Linked DNA regions of Homo sapiens. The main gene of each other region encodes a partner of the protein of the gene in region 2 in a complex. Each region holds a gene or a part of one and is shown on either strand. Other genes may lie near its edges. The genes, in order: RHOA and NET1.

Evidence for each region.
Region 1: the proteins of NET1 (region 2) and RHOA are in contact, whole or in part, in a crystal structure (PDB 4XH9), measured with the Homo sapiens proteins. Residues at the interface, in NP_001040625.1 of Homo sapiens: Glu177, Ala178, Glu181, Gln270, Leu271, Lys274, Lys281, Gln291, Leu294, Glu295, Arg300, Lys301, Leu302, Asp303, Trp305, Ser306, Asp309, Arg312, Ser313, Arg314, Val316, Lys317, Leu320, Leu321, Glu324, Gln347, Leu350, Ser351, Ile353, Asn354; in NP_001300870.1 of Homo sapiens: Arg5, Lys7, Tyr34, Pro36, Thr37, Val38, Phe39, Glu40, Asn41, Tyr42, Val43, Asp45, Glu54, Trp58, Ala61, Gly62, Gln63, Tyr66, Asp67, Arg68, Leu69, Arg70, Leu72, Ser73, Pro75, Asp76, Pro96, Thr100, Pro101, Glu102.

What each region holds. Positions count from the first base shown.
Region 1 is NC_000003.12:49,399,947-49,416,557, forward strand, and holds the start of RHOA (transforming protein RhoA isoform 1 precursor), read right to left. Parts: upstream 12,031-16,611; 5' UTR 11,874-12,030; intron 6,861-11,873; exon of another isoform or gene 6,766-6,860; intron 1-6,765. Other genes in the region: TCTA (T-cell leukemia translocation-altered gene protein), read left to right, coding at 12,481-12,694, 13,110-13,164, 14,874-14,916. UniProt on the Homo sapiens protein: Small GTPase which cycles between an active GTP-bound and an inactive GDP-bound state.
Region 2 is NC_000010.11:5,407,165-5,423,400, forward strand, and holds the start of NET1 (neuroepithelial cell-transforming gene 1 protein), read left to right. Parts: upstream 1-5,392; 5' UTR 5,393-5,528; coding exon 5,529-5,656; intron 5,657-16,236. UniProt on the Homo sapiens protein: Acts as a guanine nucleotide exchange factor (GEF) for RhoA GTPase. May be involved in activation of the SAPK/JNK pathway Stimulates genotoxic stress-induced RHOB activity in breast cancer cells leading to their cell death.

The DNA.
Region 1 (16,611 bases), on a different chromosome or scaffold from region 2:
ACGGTGGCTCACGCCTGTAATCCCAGCACGTTGGGAGGCCGAGGTGGGCGAATCAGGAGTTCGAGACCAGCCTGACCAACAAGGTGAAACCCGTCTCTACTAAAAATACAAAAAAATTAGCTGGGCATGGTGGCACGTGCTTGTAATCCCAGCTACTCGGGAGGCTGAGGCAGGAGAATCGCTTGAACCCGGGAGGCGGAGCTTGCAGTGAGCCGAGACCGCGCCACTGCACTCCAGCCTGGGTGACAGAGCGAGACTCCATCTCAAAAAAAAAAAAAAACAAAAAAAACGAAACTACAGAAGCATACTGCCCCCCTCTCCCCCAACATCTTCCCTAGTCTAACCAAAACTGGCCACCCCCCACCACCTCCTGTTTCTATAAGGAGATAAAACAAGATTATCTGTGTTCAGGCCAAGGGTTGATTCCCACTACTCATAACATTTCCCCTAAACCTCATTTTAAAGGCCAAGAGTTACACCCTCACCACCAGAGGCCTCAGTGGCTTCCTGGCTACTCTAAATTCTTCTTTATCCCTGAACTCCTACAGCACTTCGTCTTTCAGTGCTGTTTCATGCCTATGTGAGCTTGAATCACTGAATACTTTGTTCTGGTACAGAGAAGACTGTATCAGGACTTGGTGCCATGCGTCTGTAATCCTAGCTACTCAGGAGGCTGAGGTAGCTGGATCCCTTGAGCCCAGGAGTTCAAGGCTGCAGTGAGCTATGATCATGCCACTGCACTCCAGCCTGGGTGACAGAGCAAGATTGTAGCCAAAAAGGTGAGGTGGGGGGATGGTATATAAAAGGGTTAATTTCCAGCCGGGCACGGTGGCTCACGCCTGTAATTCCAGCACTTTGGGAGGCCGAGGCGGGCGGATCACGAGGTCAGGAGATCAAGACCATCCTGGCTAACACGGTGAAATCCCGTCTCTACTAAAAATACAAAAAAATTAGCCGGGCATAGTGGCGGGCGCCTGTAGTCCCAGCTATTCGGGAGGCTGAGGCAGGAGAATGGCGTGAACCCGGGAGGCAGAACTTGCAGTGAGCTGAGATTGCACCACTGCACTCCAGCCTGGGCGACAGAGACTCCGTCTCAAAAAAAAAAAAAAAAAAAAGAGTTAATTTCCTACCTTTTAGAAAGGAAACTTTCAAAAGCCCAAATTACTAATATTAGACACTAGGGCCTTCAAATTTACTTCCTCTAAGTTACTACCCTTCTTTTCTGAATTGACCTTAGGAAGTTACTTCTTTCCAAACAAGACCTACAAGTAACAACGCATAGTATGTAAAACTCCTGACCAGGTGTGGTGGCTCACAACTGCAATCCCAGCACTTTGGGAGGCAGGAGGACTGCTTGAAGCCAAGAGGTGGAGACCAGTCTGGGCAATACAGTGAGACCTCATCTCTCAAAAAAATATGAAAACGGACAGGCAAGGTAGCTTATGCCTATAATCCCAGCACTTTGGGAGGCCATGGCGGATGGATCACTTGAGCCCAAGAGTTTGACACCAGCCTGGGCAACATGGCGAAACCTCTGGGAGGCAAAGGTTGCAGTGAGTGGAGATCGGGCCACTGCACTCCAGCCTGGGCGACAAGAATGAAACTCTGTCTCAAAAAAAAAAAAAAAAAATTGGGGAAATGAAGTTGAAAACATAGAGCTGTTTATTTTGTTTACTGACTGCATGGGAAATTCCTGATGAAAGGGCCAAACTACCATCCATCCATCTGTCCATAATGAACTTGAGCCTGGTATAGGTTGAGTACTGCTTATCCAAAATGCTTGGGCCCAGAAGTGTTTCAGATTTCAGAATTTCTTCAGATTTTGGAATATCTGCATTATACTTACTGGTTCAGTATCCCAAATCCAAAAATTGAAAGTCTGAAAGGCACCACTAGGCATTTCCTTTGAATGTCATGCCAGCGCCCATCTTGAAGCATTTCAGATGCTCAACCTGTACTGCCATTATTTGGCCATCCTGATCAAGTGGCTGCCAAGCTCTTAGTTCAAGAGCTTTCCTTTCTGTAGCAGTAAGGGCACTTGGAGATCAAGAGCAGCAGGAATAAGGCACATGGTGGTAAGCAATGAAGAAAACCTTCAATTTACTGCCAAGTGAAAATCACTTCAAACTCAAGTTCTTTGGGGAAAGACAGGCAAGGAACAATCCCTGAGGTAACATACCGTCAAGTTTCCTAAATAAGAGCATGAAATCATTTATCTCAAAATGTAAATATTATAAGGTTAACCTTCAATGGATGCACAGAATCAGGATTTGACTTTGTTTGGCCTAATTCCAAACTTACATTGCCTCTAAGACAATGCGTATCTAGTAAAACTGACAAAGAAAAATGAACCATTAGGTACCTCCCAGTGAGCTGGCTAAGAATTTATATATGCTTATTGTAAACCTTATTGCAGGAGTTTACTTTTACCAAGTATATATATTTCTTAAAATAAAAAACTAGGCCGGGTGCAGTGGTTCACACCTATAATCCCACCACTTTGCGAGGCCAGAGCTCAGGAGTTAGAGACCAGCCTGGACAACATGGCAAAACGTCATCTCTATAAAAATTAAATTAATTAACTAGGTATGGTGGTGCTTGCCTGTAGTCCCAGATGCTCATGAGGCTGAGGCAGGAGTATTACTTGGGCACAAGAGTTAGAGGCTGCAGTGAGCCACGATAGCACCACTGCACTCCAGCCTGGGAAACAGATCAAGACTCTGTCTCAAAAACAAACCAAAACTTGTCATATTCTAGGAAGCCAAGCAAATAAAACGAATGAACAAAAAAACTAGTCTAAAAAACTTTAGGCCAGGAGCAGTGGCTCACACCTGTAATTCCAGCACTTTGGGAGACCGAGGCAGGAGGATCACAAGGTCAGGCCTTTGAGACCAGCCTGGCCAACATGGCGAAACCCCGTATCCACTAAAAACACAAAAAATTAGCCGGGCGTGGTGGCGGGTGCCTGTAGTTCCAGCTACTCGGGAGGCTGAAGCAGAAGAATCGCTTGAACCCGAGAGGCGGAGGTTGCAGTGAGTTGAGATCGTGCCACTGCACTGCAGCCTGGGCAACAGAGCGAGATTCCATCTCATAAAAAAAAAAAAAAAGAAACCCGCCGAGCGCGGTGGCTCACGCCTGTAATCCCAACACTTTGGGAAGCAGAGGCAGGCGGATCACAAGATCAGATCGAGACCATCCTGGCTAACAGAGTGAAACCCCATCTCTACTAAAAATACAAAAAGTTAGCTGGGTGTGGTGGCACGCACCTGTAGTCCCAGCTACTCAGGAGGCTGAGGCAGGGGAATCACTTGAACCCGGGAGGCAGAGGCTGCAGTGAGCCAAGATTGCGGCACTGCACTCCTAGATGACAGAATAAGACTCCGTCTCAAAAATAAAAATAAAAATTTAAAGCCTTGAGGAAATGCTCTTTAACTCGACTGAGTGGCAATTACTTGGGTATACACATTCATCAAAATTTATCAAACTGGCGGTTTGTGGTGGCTCATGCCTATAATCCCAGGGCTTTGTGAGGTTGAGACGAGAGAATCACTTAAGGCCAGGAGTTCAAGACCAGTCTGAGCACATAGTGAGACCCCTCTCTCTACAAAAAAAAAAATTACAAAATAAAAATGTAGCCAGGCGTGGTGGTGCACACCTGCAGTCCCAGCTACTCGGGAGGCTAAAGCAGAGAATTCTTGGGCCTAGGAGGTCGAGGATGTAGTAAGCCATGATTCCGACACTGCACTTCAGCTGGGTGACAGAACAAGGCCCTATGTCTAAAAAAAATAAGAACAAAAAAATTATCAAACTATCATTTAAAGTATGTGCATTTTATTGTATGCAAATTAAACCTCCATGAAGGTAATTAAACCTCAGGTGATTCCAATTTGGGGAACTGGATTCCAAGTTTGGGAACAGTGGAGTCTAGGAACCACTGTTCTTAAGTACCAGGAACCAAGTAGTAAGCCCTGTTTTATTCCAAGAAATCTTAGGGTGCTACTCCCACTACCCTCCCACCACCCCCGAAAAAAGGTACTACAAACTGTAACCTGAATAGTGAAAGTTGAAGATAGCTGGACTCAGTGGCTCATGCCCGTACTTGCAGCACTTTGGGAGTCTGAGGTGGGAGGACTGTTTGAGCCCAGGAGTCTGAGACCCAACCTGGGCAAGACAGCAAGACTCCATCTCTACAAAATGTAAAAATATTAGCTGGGCGCAGTGGCACATACACCTGTAGTCCCAGCTACTAGGGAGGACGAGGCGTAAGGATACCTTGACACCAAAAGTTGGAGGCCACCATGAGCTATGACTGTGCCACTGCACTCCAGCCTAGATGACAAAACAAGACCTTATCTCTCCAAAAAAAAGCCAGGCGCAGTGGCTCACACCCGTAATCCCAGTACTTTGGGAAGCCAAGGCAGGTGGATCACAAGGTCAGGAGTTCAAGACCAGCCTGGCCAACAAAGTAAAACCCCGTCTCTAGTAAAACACACACACACACACACACACACAAAATTAGCCGGGCATGGTGGCACGCACCTGTAGTCCCAGCTACTTGGGAGGCTGAGGCAGGAGAATCGCTTGCACCCTGGTAGGCAGAGATTGCAGTGAGCCGAGATTGTGCCACTACACTCCAGCTTAGACAACAGAGCAAGACTCCGTCTCAAAAAAAAAAAAAAAAAAAAAAAAAAAGGCCAGAAGGCCAGGCACGGTGGCTCACGGCTGTAATCCTAGCACTTTGGGAGGCCAAGGCAGGCAGATTGCCTGAGCTCAGGAGATGGAGACCAGCCTGGGCAACATGGTTAAACCCCGTCTCTACTAAAATACAAAAAAAAAAAAAAATTAGCCAGGCGTGGCAGCATGCACCTGTAGTCCCAGTTTACCTGGGAGGCTAAGGCAGGAGAACCGCATGAACCCGGGAGGCAGAGTTTGCAGTGAGCCGAGATCACGCCACTGCACTCCAGCCTGGGCGACAGAGCGAGACTCTTGTCTCCAAAAAAAAAAATAATAAAAAAAGTAGGCCAGGCGCGGTGGCTCACACCTATAATCCCAACACTTTGGGAGGCGGAGGCAGGCAGATCACCTGAGGTCAGGAGATCGGGACCATCCTGGCTAACACGGTAAAACCCTGTCTCTACTAAAAATACAAAAAAAAAAAACACCTAGCCGGGCGTGGTGGCGGGCACCTGTAGTCTCAGCTACTCAGGAGGCTGAGGAAGGAGAACTGCTTGAACTCGGAGGGCGGAGGTTGCAGTGAGCCGAGATCGCGCCACTGCACTCCAGCCTGGGTGACAGAGCGAGACTGTGTCTCAAAAAAAAAAAAAAAAAAAAAAAAATTAGCTGGGCATGGTGACATGCCTGTAAACCCCAACTAATGGGGAGGCTGAGGCAGGAGAATCACTTGAATCCAGGAGGTGGAGGTTGCAGTGAGCTGGGATCACGCCATTGCACTCCAGCCTGGGCAACAAGAGCAAAACTCCATCTCAAAAAATAAATAAATAAAATAAGTTAGTTGAAGGGCTACATGTCTGGCACTTGAGGTAAGTGCTTCTCTCTCACTGAAATCTCATGGCGCTTCCTTACCATTCCCTTTCTACAGAAGAAAAAAACTGAATTACAAAGGAGACATACTACTGCCAAGGGTCTCAAGCCATCAAGTGTCAGAGCTAGTATTTAACTGTCAGTTTCTCTCCAGAATCCATGCTCTTAAATAAGATACTCTACTGCCTTTTCTTTCCTTCTTTTTTTTGTGTGTATGTTTGAGACGGAGTTTCGCTCTGTTGCCCGGGCTGGAGTGCAGCAATCTTGGCTCACTGCAACCTGCGCCTCTCAAGTTCGAGGGATTCTCCTGCTTCAGCCTTCCGAGTAGCTGGGATTACAGGCACTCACTAATACACTCGGCTGATTTTTGTATTTTTAGTAGAGATGGGGTTTCACCATGTTGGTCAGACTGGTTTCGAACTCCTGACCTCAGGTGACCCACCCACCTCGGCCTCCCAAAGTGCTGGGATAACTGGCATGAGCCACCATACGCAGCCTGCCTTCTGTTTCTGAACTTAAGATCTTCAAAAGATAAACAGAGCTTCATTATGAATAACTGGAAAAGTTAAACAAGAGATTTCATCCAGAAAAGAAATTTTCCACACACACAAAAAAACAGGTATTTCCAACAAAGCTGCCATATCACATAATAAAATTATCTTGTAGAAAAAAGCATTAACAAAGTGTTACAACATTAAATATCCATCTTAAATTTACTTCCTTAACCTCTCAAAGCCTATATCCCAAACAAAGTTACAAAAAAAAATCCCAGTAGTAGAGCATATGATCTCTAGGTCCATGGAAGAGACACCAGAGAATCACAACTCATCTGCAACATACAGACTAGGATACAATGGCTAGAAGAATACAGTAAAATAAAAATGTATACATAACAAAAGTTAGAATGCTCAACCATATACTTGAAGTCAAAACAAGCAACTTTTTTAAATCATGGGACTGAATCCTTGTGCTTTAGAGCAGCTATAAGCTTCAGAAATTAAAAATCTTGGCCAGGGTAGCTCACGCCCGTAATCCCAGCAGGAAGCTGAGGCGGGTGGATTGCCTGAGGTCAGGAATTTGAGACCAGCCTGGCCGACATGGTAAAATTCTTGTCTCTACTAAAATACAAAATACAAAAATTAGCCAAGGGTGGTGGGCAGGTGGTGGATGGCACCTGTAATCGAGCTAGTGGGTAGGTTGAGGCACGAGAATCGCTTGACTCACATCTTTAATCCCAGCACTTTGGGAGGCTGAGGCAGGAGGACAACTTGAGCCCAGGAGTACAAGATCTGTCTGGGCAACATAGCAAGACACCATCTCTAGTACAAAAAAAGAGAAGAAAAAAATAAAGCAAAAAAATTTTAAAAACAAATCCTTAGTGGCTCATGCTTGTAATCCCAACACCTTGGGAGGCCAAGGTGGGTGGGTCACGGGGTCACGAGGTCAAGAGATCAAGGCCATCCTGGCCAACATGGTGAGATCCCGTCTTTACTAAAAATACAAAAATTAGTCGGGCATGGTCACACACACACACCTGTAGTCCCAGCTACTCTAGAGACTGAGGCACGAGAATCGCTTGAACCTGGGAAACAAAGGTTGAAGTGAACAAAGATCACTCACTGCACTCCAGCCTGGGTGACAGTGAGACCCTGTCTCAAGAGAAGAGAAGAGAAGAACCAATGACTTCAAATAAAATAGGCAGAAGTCACTAAGTCAAGGAAATTAATATTATGAAATCCTTTCCGTTTTTTTTTTTTTTTTTTTTTTTTTGAGTCTTGCACCGTCTCCCAGGCTGGAGTGCAATGGCTCGATCTCTGCTCACAGCAACCTCCGCCTCCCAGGTTAAAGTGATTCTCCTATCTCAGCCTCCTGAATAGCCGGGATTATAGGCGCCTGCTGCCACGCCCAGCTAATGTTTTGTATTTTTAGTAGAGACAGGGTTTCACCATGTGGCCAGGCTGGTCTCAAACTCCTGACCTCAAGTGATCCACCTGCCCAGCACTTCCAAAGTGCTGGGATTACAGGCATCAGCCACTGCTCCCAGCCAGGAATTCCTTTTTATATTTGTCCAAATTATCATATTAGTTTACTATTTAGTCAGAATGGAATTAGATCTACTCCTACTCACAGTGATTCTAGTTTTTTTTTTAATATCAGATCATGTCATTCCCTTTCTAAAGAATATCTAAATGACTTCTAATCTCAGAACAAATCCAAAGAATTTCCCATGTCCTAAAGGCCCTATATGATTTGGCCCCTGCCCACCTCTCTAACCTCTTTTTACCTCCAACTTTTCCTTTCACTCCACTTCAAACTTACTTCATTGGCTGTGTATGTTTTCCTCTTTCCCTTCACTTAAATTTAAGATACTATCATAAATATGCTTAAATATGGCCAGACATAGTGGCTCTCACCTGCAATCTCAACACTTTCAGAGGCCAAGGGGGGCAGATCACAAGGCCAGGAGTTCGAGAACAGCCTGACCAACATGGTGAAACCCCGTCTCTACTAAAAATACAAAAATTAGCTGAGCACAGTGGCGCATGCTGGTACTCCCAACTACTCCAGAGGCCGAGGCACAAGAATCACTTGAACTAGGAGGCGGCGGTTGCAGTGAGCCGAGATGGCGCTACTGCACTCTGGCCCGGACGACAGAGTGAGACTCAGTCTCAAAAGAGAAAAAAAAAAAAATATATATATATACACACACACATACACACACGTATATGTACACATATATATACGTATACACGTATATGTACACATATATATACGTATACACGTATATACGTATACACAAGTATATATACATATACACACACACACATATGCTTAAATATACATACTCATCCTCTTCAAAAAATAAAATCAAGCTAAGTTTGGCATAAACTGCATACTGATTGCAATTTAGCAAGAGTATTTGATGTTTTTCTTTATTATTAGCTATAAAAATGTATTTGGATGAAGCATCAATAAACTGAGACCAACACCCAGAACGAGCAGCTTCAGTGCCTGATTTTCAGTCACATGACTATCGTAATTATGAACATACCAAGGCCTTCACTTAATACTACAGCTCCACAGATTAAAGATGAGGGATTTTATAGTAATTACAAACTTCAAACCGTCTTGGAAATTTTAATCCCACAAATGAGCATGTCCCCAAAGAGCCCCATGTATAGCAAGGCATGTAACATTAAGTTCAAAATTTAGTTATATTAATGTGTAGTTACAAGCAAACAGTTCCATTGGGCAGGTAAACAAAGGAATAAACTAAATGGCAGAGTCAGACAAAATACTTAAGATCCTTTTTTTTTTTTTTTGAGACGGAGTCTCGCTCTGTTGCCCTGGCTGGAGCACAGTGGCGCGATCTCAGCTCACGGCAAGCTCCGCCTCTCGGGTTCACGCCATTCCCCTGCCTCAGCCTCCAGAGCAGCTGGGACTACAGGCGCCCGCCACCACACCCAGCTAATTTTTTTTGTATTTTTAGTAGAGACGGGGTTTCACCGTGTTAGCCAGGATGGTCTCCAGACCTCGTGATCCGCCCGCCTCGGCCTCCCAAAGTGCTGGGATTACAGGCATGAACCACCGCGCCCTGCCAGGATCCTTTTAAAACTACAAATATGGGTGGGCGTGGTGGCTCACCCTTGTAATCCCAGCACTTTGGGAGGCCAAGGCAGGCGGATCACCTGAGGTCAGGAGTTCAAGACCAGCCTGGCCAACACGGTGAAACCCCATCTCTACTAAAAATACAAAAGTTAGCCAGGAATGGTGGTGGGTGCCTGTAGTCCCAGCTACTCCAGGGGCCGAGGCAGGAGAATCACTTGAACCCAGGAGGCAGACGGTGCAGTGAGCTGAGATCGCGCCACTGCACTCCAGCCTGGGCAACAGAGTGAGACTCCATTTCAAAAATAAAAATAAATATAAAACTACAACTATATGGCCAATTTTAAAATCCAGTGACTATGTACTATTTATCATAATCACTAGTAACCACAATGCAATTAAACCCAAGGTGCTGTCTACAGAAGGCCAGCAGCTTCAAATTAGCTCTCTTAGAAGCTGATCAGTCTTTCTTCTCAGAGTTAACATATATCTCTCAGCTCTCTAAGACAATTAAAAAGACGCAAACTAGCACCTTCTCCAGTCACTGCATGGACTCCACCCCATGGACAAGAAACACCTGAAGAGCTACCTGTTTTTACTCTCCTAATAACTTACACCCCCATATGACCAGAATAAACTTTTAAAAAGCAGTTAACTGACAAATGGAAAGAAATCAGGACTACGAAAATACTCCACCACCACCACATGCATGTGCACAGGGAATTGTTTACTTGATACACGCAGTACCCCAAATCAACAGTCAAAAGTGCCCACAGTTAACTAAAAATATCTTAGCCTGACCTAAATATCTTGGTTTTGAAGCAGTAAAGTGTAGGCCTTGCTCTAGAAGTTGGTCCCTTAAAAAAAAATCCAAACAAAGCCATGATTAGGCCAACCAGGGACCCTCGTACATTCATCTATCTCCCTCAATTGAAGGCAGGACCATCCAGTTAACAAGGGGAGAGTGCTGTGTAAGCTAATGAACCGAAATTTTTTGGCAAATGAACAGTTTCTCCCAAACTATTCACCATCAACAAGGTTTAAAAGAAGAAACAATGGAATAAGCTAGAAGTCCTGAATTTTAGCTGACTCTGGAGGCCAACTGCTTGGGAGTAAATGGAGAATACCTTAACAGAGCAGACAGTTCTGGTCTGCTCCTGACTAGATAGGTAACCTTGGGAAATTTACTTAAGTCTCTGGGACTCAGTTTGCTCATCTGCAAATGGGGTTGGACAACCAGTCCTGAAAGATTCCTCTTAGATCTAAAACTCAAGAACTACACAGTATTCCTACTCTCTTCTTCCCTCCAACACAGATTTTTATGAGAACAGAGAGGATAAATCTAGCACTAGACTTTAACTCAAACCAAGGTGCACCTTATATATTTAATGTCCCCAAGAGCCATCAGTGCTCCACAAAAGTAGATGGAACCAATTAAGACAAGTTATCCAGAGATCCTTCAATAAGTCATTCTTTACAATTAAAAACTAGTTTTTCAGTCCAATGTCACTTGTGCCAAATGCTCAAAACAGTATCTCCGCCAATCTAGCCACATCTAAGGTGACAATCATCCGCATGGTACACATTACACATCTGGGTGATACTAAGTGGTTGAAAAATTCTCTCCACATACAACATTTTAAATTATGGAAGTTTTTTGGTTTTTCAATTTTTCTCCTTCAGAAAGGCAGAGTGAAATATCTACTTACACACCTGCAAGAAACGTTTAAGACTTTCTTCAAGACAGAACCAAACAAGTCAACAACAGAGGTAAAAATTTAAAATCAGAACTATTAAAAAACACAAGTGGAACCAACTTTGAGGTAAAAAGGATTCCAATTTTCCACCGTAAACTACTAAACAAGGTTTGTGAACAAATCAACTTGGATGCGAATAGCGCTATTCAATGAAGACGACCCGTAACTGTAGATCCAATCAGTAACTAAGGTACAGATATTTAGATCATTCCTAATCAATACAGCGACTTCGACTAAGCAACATTGCATCTATTTTCATGCAACATCGCTTAAATCATTTACAGTTTTGTGTGTTGTTTTTTTTTTCCAAATGGAAAATACCCCTTTTCCACTCAAAACAGACCCCAAAGCTTTCAGACGAGTTCGGGCGCGTTCCAGGTGGTATGGCCGTAGATCATACCCCTAAGCGTTCAATACAATCTTTTACTTACTTACACAGTCTCCAACAAGTCTGCATTAAAAGAAAACCTACCCAAAGTGTAACTGGACTTTAATCAATATGAAACAGTGATTGTCGTTTCTCGTTAAACGTAAAAAGCAAAATGGAGTTGTAAAGAGTTTCTTTCCCATTTCAACTCCGACAGCCACGCGCGCTTTCAGCGGCCGGCTACACTGCGCGGTCGCGGGGCCCGGCCCAAAGCCCCCGCCCTGCCCGGCGCCGCTGGGAGAGGAAGCTCCGGGGACCGAGGGCGGGCAGGCGGGCAGCCTGGGCTCCACCAGGCCCGGCCGGGCGGGGGAAGGGGCACAGGAGACTACCGGGCGCGCTTCCGGGGACTGCGCGGGCGGGGTCGCCGCTTGGGGCGCGGGGCCCGGGCTGGGAGTCAGGTCAAGGGTCAGGGGCCAGGGGCGGCTCGGCCACGAGCAGCCGGTGGGGCGCGGCCGCGGCGGTGCGGCGGCCTGCCGGCCGGAAGAGTACCGGGCTGGCGGGCCTGGGGCCCCGCGGCGCCTGGAGGGAACCCTTCCGCTCACCTCAGGCAACGAATCCGAGTCCAGCCTCTTCGCGCCGGGGACGCCGGTCCGCGAGTCGCAAACTCGGAGACGAAGGCGGGTAGCTGAAGACCAGACCGTGGACTAACGAGAGAACCGACGGAGGACCGCGGGCGGCGGGAGGGTAGCGCGAGAGAGCGAGGGCGGGCGGCGGCGGGAGGGCGGGGAACGACGTGCGCGCCTCCGAGTGCCCAGCGGGCTCGAGCCGGCACAGGTCGCGGCCCCGCGCACGCGCGCGCACTCACAGCTCATCCACTATTGCTCAGGAGCCCGTCCACGCCCTAAAAGCAAAACCCTTAACCAATCATTGCAGCCGCGTGGGGCATCACGGGAACTCCGGGGCTATAAAAGACCTGGTTGCTATTTTGTACTCCCGGAGTCACTCATCCCTTAAGCAAGCAGGGTGGGGTTAGGTGCGCGTGCGCGGTTTTAATACTCCTCCCCGAACTGCCAACTCTTCACGCACGCGAAGTAGGCCCCACCCTGGCTGGGTTTACGCGTGCGCACTAACGGGCCTGGTCCCGGAAGACCACACGCGTGCGTGGTGGGGACTACGGTGACAGTACCCCGGGTGGGGCGAGGGCCAGTCATGGCGGAGTCCTGGTCTGGGCAGGCCTTGCAGGCTCTGCCGGCCACGGTGCTGGGCGCGCTGGGCAGCGAGTTCTTGCGGGAGTGGGAGGCGCAGGACATGCGCGTGACCCTCTTCAAGCTGCTGCTGCTGTGGTTGGTGTTAAGTCTCCTGGGCATCCAGCTGGCGTGGGGGTTCTACGGGAATACAGTGACCGGGTTGTATCACCGTCCAGGTGAGGCTTCCTACGAACCTCCGTGGGCTGGCCGCCCCCGCCCCCACCCTCTCCCGACTGTACCATTGGGTTCCCCACTATCCTGCAAGAGGCTCATCAGAACTTAACATTGGTTCACGGCCTTACTACCCTGAACGCATCTGACCTCGGAAGCTAAGCCAGGTACTTGGATGGGAGAACTTAACGTTGTGCCCTGACTCATGCCACCATACCATTTTACGCCAGAATCCCCACCAGTCCACCCATCACATTGTATCTGTTCCTCAGAACTCTCACCTGGCAATACCATTAGTCCCTTAGGACCCTCACCAGACTTCACCAAACAATACCAGTGGTCTCTAACCTGACCTGGGCTGATGCCTGCTCAGATTCCCACCCCAGCCTTCTGCAGCTCTGGATGTGTTTCTGCCTCCAGGTCTGGGTGGTCAGAATGGATCCACGCCTGATGGCTCCACGCATTTCCCTTCGTGGTGAGTAAATCTGTCCATACCGCAACCCCATGCTTGGCATTCCAAGGACACTCCTGTGCTGGTGACAGAGAGGGGAGTTCTCAGGCTTTAAGCCCACCAGCTTAATGGCCTTTGCAGCAAGCTTCAAGTCTGCACGTAGAGCTCAGGCTTCAAGTTAGGGTGACACCAAGGTCTGGACAGTCCATCATCATGCTGTTCAGCAGCCTGTAGGATAGGTGGTGGTATTGTCATAATTTCAGAGAGATGAAATGACAGGTTTGTTGGATTCCACTCTGCACAATCCCCTCAGTTGGGAAGGCAGTAATCTCTGTCCTGAGCACATTGACCTCATCAGGGTCAGCCTCCTCTTCTGCAAAACATGCGCTCACTAATCAGGGCATTCATTCAGATAATCTCTGGGCCCCTATCACGTGATAGGGGCCACACGAGGCCCAGAGAACAAAGACAACCCGGGCCCTGCTCATGGGGAGCCAGGGATTTATTAGGGGAGGGCGGCAGTGCATGGGGCAAGGGTGGTCAGGGAAGGCTTCTCCCAAGAAAGACACCTAAGCCGAGATCAAATGCCACAGGGTGACAAAGTGTACCAAGCAAAGGGAATGGATTGAGCAAGGCTAAGAGGGAAGAATACGGGTGACATATTAGAATAGGTAAGACTGTGATGCTGGAGCTTGAACGTGAGAGCTTGTTGGACCCTGGGAGCCATTGAAAGACTAACTCAGCAAGGCTGTGGTCTGATCTAATTTGCCTTTATAAATGCCTACTTCATGGCAAGTAGATAAAGGGGTCCAAGAGTTAGGGCTAGAGGTTAGAAAGGCTGCCACTGCCCAGGTTTCTGTCTTAGAGAAGAGGCCAGGCCCCATGGCTCATGCCTGTAATCCCAGCACTTTGGGAGGCTGAGATGGGCGGATCACTTGAGGTCAGGAGTTTGAGACTAGCCTGGCCAACATAGGGAAACCCCGTCTTTACTAAAAATAGAAAAAATTAGCTGGGCATGGTGGCATACGCCTGTAATCCCAGCTACTCGGGAGGCTGAGGCATGAGAATCACTTGAACCCAGGAGGCAGAGGTTGCAGTGAGCCCAGATCACGCCACTGCACTCCAGACTGGGCATCAGAGTGAGACTCTGTCTCAAAAAAAATAACAGGCCGGGCATGGTGGCTCACGCCTGTTCCTAGCACTTTGGGAGACTGAGGAGGGTAGATCACCTGAGGCCAGGAGTTTGAGACCAGCCTGGCCAACATGGCGAAACCCCGTCTTCACTAAAAATACAAAAACTAGCTGGGTGTGGTGGCGGGCGCCTGTAATCCCAGCTACTTGGGAGGCTGAGGCAGGAAAATTGCTTGAACCCGGGAGGTGGAGGCTGCAGTGAGCTGAGATCTTGCCATTGCACCCCAACCTGGGCAACAAGAGTGAAACTCCGTCTCAAAAAAAGAAAAGTAATAACAATAGTAATAAATAAAAAGAATAAAAAAACTAGAGAAGGATGGCAATGCCGTACTAACATGGAGAACCAGGAAGAAGAATGAGTCTGCAGGGAGAAGGTGCTGGGCCCAGGGTGGGCTGTGGGAGACCAGCAGAGAGGTCTAGATTGTTATGTGACCTTACTGAGCCTAGCTCAGCCCCCAAGAAGGAGCTTGGGAGAGCCAATTTCAGCAACTGTTCTGCCCATGGAATAACCACTCTCTCTTCTCTCTCTCCATCACTTTCAGGGAAATGGCAGCAAACGAACCTCTCAAAACCCACAGAGAATAAGGGAAGGCAGCAGAGGGTCTCCAAGGGCATCACTGGGTCTGCTGGCTTCTACACTGGGTTCTGCTACTCCCCAGACCTCAGGGACAACTGCCGGGGGTTCAGGGTTGGTAGCAGGGAGTACCCAGTGCCTACAGGGCTGGGCCTCTTCTGCCTCTTAAGCCTGCTCCCTCACCCAGGCACTGGGCAAGTGAAGAGTTTGCCTGTACTCTTATCTGGGTGCCTTAAGGAGAGAGATTGTGTTCTTCCTCTCTCAGGGGTGATAACTCAGGAAGCCTCTGGGTTGGGAAGACCATCAGTTCTTTTGTCTTAGGTTTCTTTTCCTGTCCCTCTTCCATCCCCAAGATGTGACCCCATAAAAATTTTTCCTGAGTTGGCCAGGCATGGTGGCTCACGCCTGTAATCCCAACACTTTGGGAGGCTGAGGCAGGCAGATCACGAGGTCAGGAGTTCGAGACCAGCCTGACCAACATGGTGAAAACCCCATCTCTACTAAAAATACAAAAATTAGCCGGGTGTGGTGGCACACACCAGTAATCCCAGCTACTCAGGAGGCTGAAGCAGGAGATTTGCTTGAACCTGGGAGGCAGAGGTTGCAGTGAGCCAAGATTGCGCCGTTGTACTCCAGCCTGGGCAACAGAGCAAGACCCATCTCAAAAAAAAAATTTTTTTCCTGAGAGGAAGCCTGAGGTTGACCAGCTCTGGGGTTTGTAAGGCAGGTCTGTTTTCTCCTAGGCCCTGAGTTTTCTGAATCTCTGGTTTTGCTTTGTTGGCAAGGAGCCAGGGAATCCTGACCTGAGCCAGACCTTAAGCTCTATGGTTATTTAGCTGGCCATTCAGGTATAAGGCAGGGTGGTGTACCTGCTGGCACTATCCAGATGGAGGCACCAAACACCCACATACCTGGCCCAACCAGACTTCTCCCGTGAGCCAGGCAAAGGAAATTGTCATCTGCCAACTGTCCTACTCATATTCCTCTCAGTCCTTCTTGGGGGTAAGCTGATTACCTGAAGGACAGCTGAACCCCTGGGGTAGCCTCCTATCCACCACTGCTTAAGTGCCTATGGGAATGTGGGTCTGCACCTTGTCCCCTCATAGGATGGTACCAAGCATTTAGTGCACAGTGGCCCCATCATAGCCTGCAGCCTCATCATTTCCCATCTGGACCTGGTACAAATGCACGTCACAGGCTCAGCTCCTCCCCACTAGCATTTTCTCTACCTTCAAGAACCAGGCAGCCCTGCCATGTCACAATAGGCCAGGGGAGTTTCCAAAGATGTGGGTGGCAAATGCCCCTATAGAAACACCAGTACCTGAAAGCACTGTAGCCCTGGACCTGCCTCCTTCCCTCGGGGCCATACTTCTGTTTCCATCTGCTGGGCCACCAGCCACTTTAGTGACCCCTGCCTACTTCCTTCCTGTTGGATATCATACTTCCATCTGGCTGCCTTTGCTTAAGCCATCTTTGTGGTAGAGGGGCCCTGGAATTGCAGCTGTACTGAGGATGATGTTATTCACAGCCCCTGGCCCACCCACTAATACTACTGCACAGAGTCAGGATCTCACATTTCACCCCAGGCTCAACTGAGGATGTGGCTTATTAAACACGGAAGTGCATCGGTTGTTGTGGTTATTCAGACAGAACAAGGGTGTGCATGCACAGGGGCAGTGAGAGAGGGAACATCCTGGAAGCTGTTG
Region 2 (16,236 bases):
CATCTCCAGTAAACTTTGACTTTAAGTAAAGGACATCATCCTCAATAATGTGAGTGGGCCTCATCCAATCAGTTGAAAGACCATAAGAGTAAAATGGAGATTTCTCTGAGGAAGAAATTTCTCCTAAGGATGGCACCTTTAGTTTCAGCTTTAGCTGTTACTCAGGAGTTTCCAGCCTGCCAGTCTGCCAGCCTGCCCTACTGATTCCAGACTTTACAGCCCCACAATCACACTAACTTATTCCTTAAAATAAATCACACACACAATACTGACTCTGACATACTTGGTGGCCACCCTTAGGTTCTGAGGGTGAAAAAATGGCAGAGTGATAAAAGTGTGGTATTTATAGTTACGATGTCCTTGTTCAAAGTTCCTTTCTTGGCCAGGCACAGTGGCTCATGCCTGTAATCGCAGCACTTTGGGAGGCCAAGGTGGGCAGATCACCTGAGGTCAGGAGTTCAAGACCAGCCTGGCCAATGTGGTGAAACCCCATCTCTACTAAAAATACAAAAAATTAGCCGGGTGTGGTGGCAGGCACCTGTAATACCAGCTACTCTGGAGGCTGAAGCAGGAGAATCACTTGAACCCTGGAGGCGGAGGTTACAGTGAACCAAGGTCACGCCATTGCACTCCAGCCTGGGCAACAAGAGCAAAACTCCATCTCAAAAAAAAAAAAAAGTTCCTTTCTTAAGTATTTTTCATTGTGAGCCAGTCAATTCACTGGCCAAGTAATGAGACAAACAAAACCTTCTAAGCATGAAAATTTGTTACAAAAAAAAAAAATTATTCAACTCTGAGCAATAATTCTGATTGACATTCTGACATTTCTGAAGTTCTCTTTGGTAATTCTCTGTTGGCAGCCTCACAACCACAGCCAGATCACTGTCCTTTGCCATTCTCTCTGGCCCCTACCATTGCACTGAAACCCCTTTCTCCTTCCTCCTCTGTTCTCCTCTCCTACTACTAATATAAATCAGTCTTTTAGACCTGCAATGTCTTTAGGAAGATAGTCTAAGCGTTAAGAAAAATGAATTACAGTCTACTTTGGATTAATAGCACCTTCTCTGGCCACACATATTTCATCTCAAATTTTATTGTTCTCTAAGCTCAACAGCTAGATTTTGGAGTTTTCCATTTTCCTCATTGGAATACCTAAGAGTAAACCAATATGGTAAACAAATGATTCATAGATGATTGATTGATTGATTGACTGATTGAGGCAAAAAATGAAACAACCTCCCCCCACATCACACATACACACACAGTGATAGATTTTAAGGGATGACAAACCTGATTTCAAATATTCTGCCCTATTGTGCCTATAAGTACACTTCTGCTTGTCAGAATGACAATCAATGCAGTCCACATACTTAGCTGTTGGACTACACTCCCTTTCATTTGGCAGGAACAATTAAGTTTGACCCAATTAAAAATTACAGTCTAATAAACAGTTTTGTAAATTAATCAATAGTAGATATAGTAAATATATTTTTAAAAATTTCAGACTTTATTATAACATTCTATATATAAATTATATGTATATGCACACATACAGACATTCATTCTCCTGAATGTAATTGCTGTTAGTTCATGAGAAGCTATGAGAAGATTCAGACAAAAAAGAAAAACGTTGATGCAAAGGGCAATTCTCTAGTTATTAAGACTACTAGTTTTCTAATGGTAGGTCATTGTTTGCAAATTTGCTACATTTTTCTATGGGAGCCTACAGACCAAAGGGGAATCATTTAGCTAGTGATAGCAATGGCAAACAAAATATCACATCAAAATCATCAAATAATTTGGAAATTAATAAAGTGTTTTGATGAACACTTTGTACTCTAATATATACATATATATATATATATATATATAAAACTTGGTAAGCAGTTTTGCAAAAATAGTTTGATTTACTTAGATAATGAAAGAAAATAGGTTTTTAAATTATTGATTTACATAATAATTTACATTCATTTATTGATTGTTGAATTTATTTAATATCAACTTGCAAAATGATTGGTGTCATCACATAGGGCTGAAGGTTTTGGAAATAATCTTTGAGGAAGTTCCCCAAAAGAATATTTGTTTTGCAAATCCATGGTTGAAAAAGTTTGGGTTACACTTTGCTCTAGTCAAGTTAGTAGGAATATCTTCTCAGAGAGGGAGTTCTAGAGTCTGATTTTATATATATGAAAGCTGAAATCAAAACAATTTCCTCAAACCCTATCCCGGTGAATATTTTAAGGGAGAAGGATGATTTGTGGGGAACTGAAAGAGAGAGGATTCAGAGAACATTTGTCATGGTTTTGGGACTGTTCTATACAGTGTAAGACATAGAACATGGGGACAATGGCATTCAGACACCAGAAAGTTGATCTCTTGTAAGATCAAGAGATGTCACCAGCCTTTCCCAGGTCTTCAATGACCAACCCTCAGAGCGGTCACTTTTCTTTGCTCTTCTTCTATGGTACCCAGCCATTTTCTGATGAAAATTTGTCTTCTATTCCTTATTTCCCTAATGTCTAGCACAGATCCTGGCATATTATAGCAGGAATTTAATAAATTCTTGTGAATAATTGAACAAAATCATAAGTTCTCAAGTGAATGAAAATTGGAAACAGTTGCTCTGCATAAAACAATAGTATTCAGGTCACTGGAAAGAAGTGCCCACCCCCACCACTGGAATCCCCACATTGACATCCTGCAGTATCTATCATTTTGTGAGTAGTTATTACAAGTTACCAAAGGACTGACCACCTCTGATGACACAATCAAAACCAGTTTCAGGACCTGCAAAGCTGAGGACAGACCCTGAATTCTGAGGATCTCACCGAAGTATGTTGAAACTATTAATATGAAACGGCTGTTTCTGTGGGTAAAAAGACCAAGCGTCAGCGATTCACATGGTCCTATCTTGTGAACAAAAGTTCTCTGAAAAGGAAGTTTGGAGAAAGGAGACTTTATTCTAGTGAACAGTTTGCAAACCAGGGAGACACAGCCTTCGGAGTAAAAGAAAGGTGATTCCAGAGAATAAAGGGGAGGGTTTGGCTTCTATAGAAAAAGTTCTTGTCCAGGTTTCCAATCAGATGTGTTTATGCAAAGGAAAGATTCAGACTTGCTCAGTTCAGATTGGGTAATACAGCTGAACCCTGATTGGATAAAGCAGATGAGTTCTGATCGGTTACATCAGGTGAGCCCTGATTGGTCAATTCGGGTAAATTGTGAAAATCCCAAAGGGGTGTGAGTTTTCTGGACACAGAGTAGTTGTGACCTACTTGGGACCTGACTTGAAGAATTGCTCTTACAGGTTTATTTTTGTTCATAATCTAAACATCTGCATCCTCTGAAGCTCTGTCTTGGTGGAGACCAACTCCCCAAATATTAAGAACATTTCTGTATTCTTACACTCTAACTGCTACAAAGCAGTACTTTCTTCTTTAATTTTTGGGGAGGGATGGGGAAGGTAGAACAGAAGTGGTTCTTGACCAAGGTCAACTTATGTTCAGAGCTGGTTCCTTCCGGTGGGTTCATGGTCTCGCTGACTTCAAGAATGAAGCCATGGACCTTCATGGTGAGTGTTACAGCTCTTAAAGGTGGCACAGACCTAAAGAGTGAGCAGCAGCAAGATTTATTGTAAAGAGTGAAAGAACTAAAGCTTCCACAGTGTGGAAGGGGACCCCAGTGGGTTGCCCTGCTGGCTGGGGTGGCCAGGTTTTATTCCCTTATATGTGCCCTCCCATGTTCCATTTTTGTCCTATCAGAGTGCCCTTTTTTCAATCCTCCCTGTGATTGGCTACTTTTAGGGTCCTGCTGATTGGTGCTTTTTACAGAGCACTGATTGGTGCATTTTACAATCCTCTTGCTAGCTACAGAGCACTGATTGGTGTGTTTTACAATCCTCTTGCCAGACAGAAAAGTTCTCCAAGTCCCCACTCTACCCAGGAAGTCTAGCTGGCTTCACATCTCAATGTTACTCCCTAATTTCTTACTCTTTTTAAAACAAAAACATTTTTCCCTCATGTTATAAAGGTACTGCAAATTCAATATGTCCTTATTTTTAAAAAAATTAAATGCAAAAAATAAAAATAAAAATTTTGAATACCTAAAGTCTACCTAGAGACATTTTAATACATTGACTTTTTAATACATTTAATACATTTTAATACATTATCTTTTTTCTTTGTATAATCTCTTGTAATTCATAACTTTGAATATACTGAATATACCTCTATACTTCATGTTTTTATTTCAAATTACCAGTATACTATTACATACTTCACACTTCATTTTTGTTGGCTGAAAATATTCTTCTCAGTGGATGAGCTATAAATCATTGTTTATTTAGGTTGTTTTAAATGTTTCTATTATAAACAATGTCATTAATAGCTTCATGTTTATATAATTTTATTTTTTAGGATAAATTTCCATAAGTGGAAATATACTGGCAAAAGAGAAGTGTTTTTTTGTTTTTTTTTTTTTGGAGACGGAGTCTCGCTCTGTCACTGGGCTGGAGTGCAGTGGCACGGTCTTGGCTCAATTCAAGCTCCGACTCTCTGGTTCAACTAATTCTCCTGCCTCAGCCTCCTGAGTAGCTGGGATTACAGGCATGCGCCACTCTGCCCAGCTAAGTTTTGTATTTTAGTAGCGACAGGGTTTCACCATGTTGGCCAGGATGGTCTTGATCTCCTGATCTCGTGATCCGCCTGCCTCAGCCTCCCAAAGTGCTGGGATTACAGGCGTGAGCCACAGCGCCCGGTCAGGAGAAGCTATTTTTAAAGACTTTGACACATATAAAGCAATATTTAAAATCAAAGAAAGTGTAATTTGTTTAACAATTTTTTTTTTACTTGAAGCGGTCTTTTATTTTATATTATGTCTTTTGCTGACTTTTACAAGCAAAGGATGAAGTCACTTCATTCTGTTTTGCTAGGGAGAGACTGTGTCATGCTTATTGGAAGACATAAGGGCTCATAATTAGATTTTGCTGGTTCCCTAGAGACAGTCCCGGGAACACACTTGCATAACCTTTGGTAATTGGAAATATATCTCATATTGGCCACGTGCACAATAATTCAGTGTGAATATGGCCAATAAACATGCCTTGTTTACAGGTCATTAGTTTGGACCTCTCTTCTCCTCAAATGCTAAGAAAGATCTGGTGAATTAAAATGCTTCCAGTCCATTTGCCTTGGCCTGTAGTGAAAGTCCTAATGAACAATGAAGGAGGTACCGGGCCTTAGGGACTCAGGGATGCGCTCAGGAGTTAAGGGCAAATTTTCCTAGGTTCTTTCCTAGGCAAGTAGATCCCGGGAGCGGTGGAGGGGCGGGACTCCACGTCTCCTAGGAACCGCTGCGCGCTCACTGATTGGCTGATCGCTGCTCAGCCGCCATTTTCAAATCCCCGGATGACGGCGGTGGCGGCTGCAGTCCGCTGACAGGCGCTTTCTGCCTGGCAGAGGCTGGCGGGCATCGTGCCCGTCCCTGCCGGTCTCCCGGGCACCCGGCCACCGCCCCACCCCCTCCTCCGTGCCATGGAGCCCGAGCTGGCGGCTCAGAAGCAGCCTCGACCGCGGAGGCGAAGCCGCCGGGCCTCTGGGCTCAGCACGGAGGGAGCGACGGGGCCTTCGGCCGACACCTCCGGGTCGGAGCTGGACGGGAGGTGAGTGTGGGGGAGGGGAGGGCCGAACGGGAGGTGAGTGTAGGGGAGCGGAGGGCCGAACGGGAGGTGAGTGTTGGAGAGGCAAGGGCCGGGGGGAGGGGAGGGCTGGCCGGGAGTTGGATGTGGGGGGCGGCGAGTGGGGGTGTTGGTGAGGGCCAGGGGGAGGCGAGGGCCGCTGGGAGGTGAGTGGGGGGTGGGGGAGGTGACCGCGGGGTTGGGGGGGGGGACGGGGGCCGCTGGAAGTGAGGGTGGCACAGGCTGGAGTGACAGTGTGCCTGGCCTTGGACCGAGGTCGGTCCTGAGACCCCAAACTGCGATTTTCCCTGCCTGTGGCAAAGGGGCGGGTTTATTGAGTCTCCTCGCCTCCTGACTGTTTCTCAGGGGAGACTTAGGAAAAACCACAATGGTTTTGTTCTGCACACCCAACTGGCTGTAGGCTGGCGTTCCCAAATGCCTTTGCTCAGACCGAAACTGTCATGGTGAGCACCACGAGAATGGGCTTCCATGTCCTGAGAAAGAAAAGACTAAGGGATAAGTTGACTTCGGGATATGTTATGAGATGCCTATTAGAGAGTTCATCACAACCATTTTCGTGTTTTTTCTTTTTACTTTTTGTGGAAGTATACATTGAAATGAGAGTGTATGACTCGTGTTTGGCTCAGTGAAATTTCACAAAGCGAAGCTCAGGGGATAGCTAGTGAATTAGGAGGAAGGGAACCAAGTGAGAACAGTATCCAGGAGGCCAAATGAAGAAAGAATTTCAAGAAGAGGACGTGGCGAGCTATGTCAGATGTTATTGATAGGTCAAATAAAATGAGGATTAAGTAAAATAAGATGAGGATTAAGCTAGATGAGGAATGAAAATTAAATTTGGTAATGAGAAGAGAGTATTGATCTTAGATGGTTTCCAAGAATGGTTACAATATCGAACTTAGAGTGTTTTGCAACAGGTTGAGAAGAGAATGTGCGATTTGTTCAGAAAATAATGTGAGTGCCAACACTAGGAATATGGAAATGGAAAAATACTCTTGTTACTATTTAAGATTTATAATCTAGTGGGGAAGAAAGATAAGTAGGTTAATAATTATTATAATATGTGATAAAAGTTATTATAGTGATATACACAGAATGCCGTAGATTAAAAGGAACACTTAATCCTGACTGGAGAGAATAGGAAATGATTTCCTATTGTAATCCCTGAGTCTTTAAGGACCAGTTTAGAGAGCAGATGTAAATGGATGATTTCAGGCAGAGAAGCATGTAGAAAGGCCCTGAAGCAAATGAGTCTGATGAGTTCTGGGTATATATTCTATTTTATTACTATATTAACAGTGATATTTGTATAGAGGAGAGGAAACCAATATGGGGAGAAGGAGGAGGTAGTCATGAGAGATGATGCTAAAGAGGTAAGCGCCACATCATGAAGAGACCTTGTATGCCTTGACAGAGTTTGGGTTTTATCTTCATGGTAATGGGGAAATACTGAAAGACTTTAAATGAGCCAATGGCATGACATATTTGCATTTTAAAAGATCAGTTTGCCTTCCATGAGAAAAATAAGCAACATTTTGGAGTCATCTCACTCTTCATATTTTATGAAAACTATTCCCCAAAAATGTGCACATATACATAAACATTTCAGGAGATTTGTGGACCCAGCTGTGTATACCAAATTAAAATTTCCAAGTTTAGCTGATGGATTGGTAGGAAATCAGTCTGCAGTAGTCTAAATGAAAAAATGATTGTTCGAATCTGATAGCTGGCAATGGGATTGGTGAAGAGAAGTTTCACTGCAACAGGAAGACAAGAAAGAATAGAGAGAAATAACACAATTTTGTGGGATAGACTCTTAAGAAAGAATAAATTCCCTTGATGTGCTGTGCTGAGTTAACAAATAGAGGGAGAGGTTGAACAGACAGTAGAGGAGAAAAATGGTTGAACAAGGATCCAAGAAGGCAGAAAAGGACAGAATCCAAATTCAAGGTAGAGGATTTAGCCTAACAAGAAGCTATGGATGATATATAGTTTTGAAGAATGGGGTGTGTTGTGAGCAGGAATTTGAGGACTTTCCCACCAGGCCTCTATTTTTTGTGTGAGGTAGGAAATGATACATTGTGAGAAAAGCGTAGTAACACAGGCAGCATGAGGAGAGTGAGACACAGTTAGAAGAACCATGGAGAGAAAATGGAGAATTAAATAACATATTCCTTTTCCAGAAAAGATGTAAGATCATCTACAAGAATACGTAAAATATTACAAGATAGTATTAATTGTGAGGCAAGAAGCAACTAAGCACTGTATCAGATTCAGAAATCATAAGGAAAAAGATTTGTGTGTATGATTATGTGACTATTGAAAAACGTTCTGCAGGCAAAACTCAGTATAAACTAATTTGAAAGACAAATACGTACAGTACAATTTACCCACTTAAATTGTACTACTTAGAACATTTTCATCACCTCAAAAAGAGCATTTGTACCCTTTAGCTATTGTTCCTCTCCTACCCCTTCTGCCCTAAAACCTAATCTGTCGGTCTGTAGGAATTTCTCTGTTCTGGACATTGCATATGAATGGATTTATGTAATGTGTGTGGCCATTTTTGGTGGGCCATCCTTTGCTCTTTTTTTTTTTTCTTTTGAGACGGAGTCTCAGTCTGTCACCGGGGCTGGAGTACAGTGGCATGATCTCGGCTCACTGCAACCTCCGCCTCCCGGGTTCAAGTGATTCTCCTGCCTCAGCCTACCAAGTAGCTGGAACTACAGGCATGTGTCACCACGTGTGGCTAATTTTTTGTATTTTTAGTAAAGACAGGGTTTCACCATGTTGGCTAGGCTGGTCTTGAACTCCTGACCTTGTGATTTGCCTGCCTCGGCCTCCCAAAGTGCTGGGATTACAGGCGTGAGCCACCGCACCTGGCCCTGTTCATTTTTAAATTTCTTTTTTATTGAGTTGTTAAGAGTTCTTTATTCTGGATACAAGTCCCTTATCAGATAGATTATTTGCAAATATTTTCTCTTATTCTGTGGTTTGTCTTTTCACTTTCATGATGTGCTTCGAAGCACAAAAATGTTTTAGTTTGTAGTCCTACTTGTCTATTTTTGCTTTTGTTGCCTGTGTTTTGGTGTCACATCCAAGAAATCACTGCTAAATCCATTGTTATGAATCCTTTCCCCAGTGCTTTCTTCTGAGAATTTTATCATTTTAGCTTTTATATTTGGGTCTTTAATCCATTTTGAGTTAGTTTTTGTATATAATGTGAGATGACGGTCCAACTTAATTCTTTTTCATGTGTCTATCCAGGTACCCCAGCACCATTTTTTGAAGACTGTTCTTTCTCCCACTGAGTAGTCTTAGCACCCTTGTCAAAAATCAGTTGACCTTAAGCATGAGAGTTTATTTTTAGACTTTGACTTTTATTCTCTTGATCTATATGTAATAGCCCTATGCCATTACCATGGTGTTTTGATTACCGTTGCTTTGTATAGTAAGTTTTGAAATTGGGATATGTGAGTCCTCCTACTTTGTTCTTTTTTTCCCAAGATTGTTGTGGCTATCCTGGGTCTCCTGCAATTCTATGTGAATTTTAGAATCAGCTTAATCGATTTTTACAAAGGAGTCCACAGGGATTCTGATAGAGATTGCATTAAATCTTGTAGATCATTTTCAGGAGTATTGCCCTCTACAGAGAGTTAAGTAGTCTGATCCATGGACAAGGGATGTTTTTCCAATTATTTAGATCTTTAATTATTTTCAACAGTGTTTTGTAGTTTTCAGAGTATAGTTCTGCATGTTTTGCTAAATTTATTCCTAAGTATTTTGTTCTTTTTGATGCAGTTGTAAATGGATTCATTTCTTTTGAAATGGGAAAAGTTCCCTTTTCCCCCTCGCAGGGCGTGCACTGGAGGTGTGCTCGCTTCTTCGGTGCCCTGCTGTTCAAACCTCTAGGGGAACATATAGATAGGCAGGCTGTGGGGCTCCAACCCCATAGCCATGTCTATGGGTGAATGTTTACAGCTGAAGCCTCAGTGGGCTTGTGTTACAGGGTACTCTTAGTTTAGCCATCCGTAGGCGGCTTGTATTCATCAGCTCAGTTAGACCCCTGCCTTATTTCAAGGACAGGGGGCCTTCTGTATCCCAGGGTTCTTGCCTTGATGTACTGGAACAATCAGATGACACGTTGGCTTGGATAATGATTGCAAGCTTTTATAGAGTGGAAGTAGCTCTCAGCAGATGGGGGAGCCAGAAGGGAAATGGTTTTGCCCTGGTGTCAGGTTGCCCGATTCTCCTCCAACCTCCCTGGCCAAGCTCTGCGTCATTCTGCGAATCGATGGCCTGCCAGCTGGCCTGCCAGCGTGCTGGTGTACTCCCACGTCGATGTGTTCCTCTTGACATCCAGCCACCTGTGTGTCTGCCTGCTAGGGTCTCGGGGGGTTTTTATAGGCACAGGTGGGGGCGTGCTTTTATAGGCACAGGATGGGGGTGTGGTGAGCCAGGGTGGTCTTGGGAAATGCAACATTTGGGTAGGAAAACAGAAATGCCTATCCTCACTTAGGTCCGTGGGCCCAGGCCTGGGGATGGAGCCCTAGCAAGGGACCACGCTCTCCTCTACGCAGCACTTCCCTGCCCCGCTTTGTATCACTTTATTTTCAGTTTAATAATTTCAATTGTATAGGAATACATACAATTGATTTTTGTATATCGATCTTGGATCCTGCTACCTTGCTGAGCTCATTAGTTCTAATAGTTTTTTAGTGGTTTCTTTAGGACTTTCTGTGTACAGGGTCATGTCATCAGCAAATAAAAATAGTTTTACTTCTTTTTCCAATCTCTGGATGCCCTTTACTTTTTTCTCTTTCCTAATTGCCCTGGGTAGGGCCTCCTGTACAACGCTGAACAGAAGTGGAGAGACGGGAAATTCTTGTCTTGTTTCTGATCTTAAGGGGAAAGCATACAATCTTTCACCATTAAGTATGATGTTAGTTGTAAGCTTTGTAGATGTCCTTTATCAGGTTGAGGAAGTTCCATTCTGTTACTAGTTTTTGAGTGGTTTTTATCATGAAAGGTTTTAGGGTTTTTTTTCTTTTGTCTATTGAAATGATCATGTGGTTGTTGTTATTACTGATGTGTTACATTAATTGATTTTTTGGGATGTTAAACCAACTTTGCCTTCCTGGTATAAGTCCTGCTTGGTCATTGTGTATAGCTTTTTTAAATATATTGTTGGATCCATTTTGTTAATATTTTGTTGAATATTTTTGTATATATATTCATAAGATATTGATCTGTAGTTTTATTATCTTGTACTATGCTTGTCTGGTTTTGGTATTGGGATAATACTGGCCTCATAAAATCAGTTAAGAAGTATTCCCTACTGTTTTGTTTTTTTTGAAAGAGTTTGTGAAGAATTGGTATTCTTTCAATGTTTGGTAGAATTCAGTGTAAAGCCACCTAGGCCTAGACTTTTCTCTGTGGATAGTTTATTATTATTATTAATTCAATCTCATCTCTTGTTGTAGGTGTCTTCTGATAGTTTGTTTCTTATTAAGTCAGTTTCAGTAGGTTGTATCTCTTTAGGAATTTGTTTCATCAAAGTTATCTAATTTGTTGGTGTACCCTTCCTTGTTCATAGTATTTCTTTATAATCCTTTTCATGTAATGTCAATAGTAATGTCCCCTCTTTTATTTCTGATTCTTGTAATTTGTGTCTTCTTTCTTTTTATGATGATGGTCAATCTAGCTACAGTCTTGTCAATCTTGATCTTTCCAAAGAATGTGATTTTAGCTTCATTAATTTTCTTTGTTCTTCTATTCTTTGTTTTATTTTCACTTTAATCCTTATTGTTTCCTTCTTCCTGCTTAGTAATCTGAGTAATCTGCTCAGATTAGTCTGCATGCTTTAGGTTTAGTTGGCCCTTTTTGTTTCCAGTGTCATGATTATAGATTAAGTTACTGATTTGAGATCTTTTTCTTAATATAGGGATACAGCTATAAATTTCCCTCTGAGCATTGCTTTAGCTGCATCTCATAAATTTTGATATATTGTGTCTTCACTATCATTAATCTCAAATTCTGATTTCTTTTTGACTTCTTTGAGCCATTAGTTATTTAGGAATGAATTGTTTAATTTCCACATAATTGTGACTTTCACAAATTTTTTCTAATTTCATTACATTGCAGCTGGAAAATACACTTTGTATTATGTATTATTTCTATCCTTTTACATTTATTGAGATTGTGCTGTTTTTATATGCACATATGTTTGTAATTGTATCTTCCTGATGGATCAATCTGTTTATCACTATAAAATATCCCTCTTTGGTAACATTTTTTTCTTTGAAAGGCCATTTTGTTTGATGTTAATATAGCTACTCTAGCTTTCTTGTGGCTTGCTGTTTGCATGATACGTGTTTATCCCTTTATTTTCAAGCTGTTTATATCTGTGAAACTAAAGTGTGTCTCCTGTGGACAGCATATAGTTGGATCTTGGTTGGTTGGTTGGTTGGTTGGTTGGTTGGTTGGTTGGTTTTGATCCTGTCTGGCTGTCCATTTCTTTTGATTGGGTTGTTTACTCCAATCACATTTAACGTTATTTATTGATATAGTTGGATTTATGTCTGCCATTTTGTCGTGTTATATATGTCTTTTGTTTCTCTATTCCTCCTTTATTGCTTTCTTTTGCATTAAGTGAGAATTTTCTAATTTATAGCATTTGAATTTCTTTACTGATTTTTTTCATTGACACTGCTTTTACTAGGCTTTTTTGGGTTTTGTATGTGAACTCAGATTACCGTCTGTGGTCACTGGCTTTCAGCCAGAAATTCTTATGGTATTTCTTGTAAGGCAAGTCCGCTACCAACAAATTCTCTGTTTGTTTTTTTTCTTTGTTTTGTTGTTGTTGTTGTTGTTGTTGTTGTTTTTATGGGAATGTCTTTGTTTCTCCTTCATTCTCGAAAGATAATTTTGATAGTATAGGATTCTTTGCTGAAATTTTCTTTTTCTTTGAGCACTTTGAATGTGTTATCACACTGCTTCTGTCTTCCATTGTTTCTGTTAAGAAGTCAGAATCTTTTTGGGGTTCCTTGTAAATAACAAGTGTTTTTTTCTCTTGCTGCTTTTAAGATTTTCTTATCTTTAACTTTTGCCATTTTTACTATGATGTGTCTGTCTGTGGATATCTTTGTGTTATCTTACTTGAAGTTTATTGAGCTTTTTCTGAATGTGTAGGTGGTTGTTTTTCAATAAATTTGGAGAAGCTTCAGCCATTGTTTCTCTGAAGTTTTTTTCTGCTCTTTTCTCTTTTCCTCTCTTTCTGATATTCCCATTATGTGTATTTGAAGGGAAATATAGCAAATAAAACAAAATTTTAATGCAAATATTTAAACCAAGCAGTTCTACCCACAGAAATTTATCTTAAAGTAATGGGCAAGTATACATGGATGTATGTACAAGAAAGTATATCCTAGCACATTTGTGTAGTAGAAAGGTTAGAAAAAACAGGAGGAGGAAGCTAAATACATTATGATATTCTGTACAGTGAGATATTATAATATACAATTTTTATAACTCAGGTGGAATATATTTGGTATGTTGTATAAGATGTATTTGGGATTTTAGGTTGTTTGTTGATACATCTCCTCTATACACCTGTGCAAGTTTCTCTGGGGCAGCAGTTATGTTTTCTATGTAGATATTCCCTACAATATGACAGGCCTCTTAACGTCTTTCTCCTCACCTCCCAGTTCTGGGTAGTAGGCAAAGGTCTTTCTTTTTTATTTTATTTTTTTATTTATTTTTGAGATGGAGTCTTGCTCTGTCGCCAGGCTGGAGTGCAGTGGCGCGATCTCGGCTCACTGTAGCCTCCGACTCCCTGGTTCAAGTGATCCTCCTTCCTCAGCCTCCCGAGTAACTGGGATTACAGGCAAGCGCCACCACGCCCAGCTAATTTTTGTATTTTTAGTAGAGACGGGGTTTCACCATGTTGGCCAGGATGGTTTTGATCTCCTGACCTCGTGAACCGCCCACCTTGACCTCCCAAAGTGCTGGGATTACAAGTATGAGTCACTGTGCCCGGCCAGCAAGGGTCTTTCTAAAGAACCCTAGGTTATACTACATGATTGAGAGCTCAGAACGAGGACTGCTTTTCTGGCCTAGTTTTTTTGATACCAAGTCTGTTCTGGCCTCAGCTTTGATTTACCTAATTATTTTCTGTCTTCTCCTTTGAGAATGTATATTCTTTTAACATTCTTTTAGACTAGAACCCATAGACAAAGAGTAACGTTTAAAGATTTTAGGCATTAAAAGCAGTCAGACTTCCTAGGTTCAAATTCTGGCTCTTAAGGACCTTGGGCAAGTTACTTAGTCTCTAAATCTCACTTCATAGTACCTATGTCTAAGGTCCTGAAAATTGGACACAAGTAATGTTTAAATAATTTTATTTCTGTCTTTCGGGGCCTTAGGGAAAGCCATAGAACTTTACATATCACCCATATGGCAGAAATATAAATACATACTGATCCTTTTAAGGATTTTATATTTTCCTTTTTTGCAGATTTGAAATAATGCTGTCCATTGGTAGAAAAATAATAGTATGACCTATGATCTACCAACAGTGATAAGGCTTACTCTTTGAATTTTGTTTTTCCAGTAAAATTAATTGATGGATTTGTACAGTGGATATCCAGTTAAAGGTATAGCCTTAAATCAATTCTTGACAACCCAGGATCTTTATTATTAGTAGTAGTAGTTGCCAAAAATAAAAGGCATGCTCACAGAAGCTTGTAAGGCCATGTGGTCCCAAATAAGTTGACTATGTTTTTAAATAGTTTATTGAGATATGATTTGTATATCATAACATTCACCCTTTGTAGGTGAACAATTCAGTAATTATCAGTAAATTTATAGAGTTGTGCAGTCATTACCACAATCCATTGTTAGAACATTTCATCACCCCAAATATCCCTGCTCCCACCCCAGCCCTAGGCAGCCACTGATCTGCTTTCTAGCTCTATAAATTTCTATTTTCAGGACATACAAGTGGAATCATACAATGTGTAGTCTTTCTGCTTCTGCCTTCTTTCACTTACATCAGTATTTCATTTTATTGCCAAACCATATTCCATTATATGAATATACTACATTTTGTCAACTCCATTTACCAGCTGTTGTACATTTGATTTGTTTCCAGTTTGGTGCTTTTATGGATAATGCTGCTATGAACATTTGCATGTAAGTCTTAGTGTAGGCTGGGCGCGGTGGCTCACGCCTATAATCCCAGCACTTTGGGAGGCCGAGGCGGGTGGATCACCTGAGGTCAGGAGTTCGAGACCAGCCTGGTCAACATGGCCTGTCTCTACTAAAAATATAAAATTTAGCTGGGCATGGTGGCGTGCCCCTGTAATCCTAGCTACTCGGGAGATTGAGGCAGGAGAATCGCTTGAACCCTGGAGGCGGAGGTTGTAGTGAGCCGAGATCGTACCACTGCACTCCAGCCTGGGTGACAGAGCAAAACTCCGTCTCAAAAAAAAAAAAAGTCTTTGTGTAGACATACGTTTTCACTCCTCTTGGGTAAATTCTTGGGGGTGGAATTATCAGGTCCTACGGTAAACTTACCACTAACATCTTAAGGAATTGCCACACTGTTTCCAAAGAGTACTGGATTGTTAATGATGGAAGCCTTCAGAATTTCTCTTTCCTTCTGTTACTTGCTGTTGTCATTATCCCCTGTTCCCTCTTCCCTGAATTTGCTGCTGTGGGCAAGGCCTGAGAATTAATGCAGGACATTAGGATGTCTGGGGTGCTTTGGGGGTGGTGTTTGCTGGTTTCTAGATGCTCAACTGTGTTCTAGACAAGATATTCCAAGATGTATGTATTAGTTGAGACTCTCATGCAGATGAGAAAACCCTAGTATGATAGGAGACATAGTCTACATGATTGTCAGAAGTGGAAGAAGAGACAACTCCTTAATAGCAAAGATGCTGAACAGCCAAAACAGTAGTGGATGTCTACTACATCAGATATTTGACCCAAATAAATGAATTGTTTCTATAATAATTTAGTTTGTTTTTGCCTGATTTGCAAAGAAATTGAGAACCTCAGTTGCTTGGCACACCCCAAATGTAAAAAGTGTTAACTGCAGAGGATAAATTATACCATTCTTTTTACATGTATGGTATAATTCTTTTTATATGTTTGGCATTTACAGATTACATTTTTTATTTAATTGGAAAAAATGTTATTTTTAGGATAAGAGTATATGTACAGTGCTTGTCACATAGTAGGCACCCAATAAATGATAACATTATCCTTTTTAAAATCTTTTTCTGAAACTCGTTTTCATTCTACATCCATTTTTTATGGTGAATGCATCTTGAGGGTAAATTATGCTTTTAAGAATGCTTTTTTCCTGTTGGTAATAGTAATTTTCAATACGTTTTTTGAAAATATTTATAATTTCAGGTCAGGTCTTATCTGGCATGATGGAGGAGGTGGTGACACAAATCAGAAACTCTGAAAACATAATTTGGCTTAAGAATGAATTAACAAGATGCTTTTCTTTTGAACAGCAGCTTTATCATTTTAAT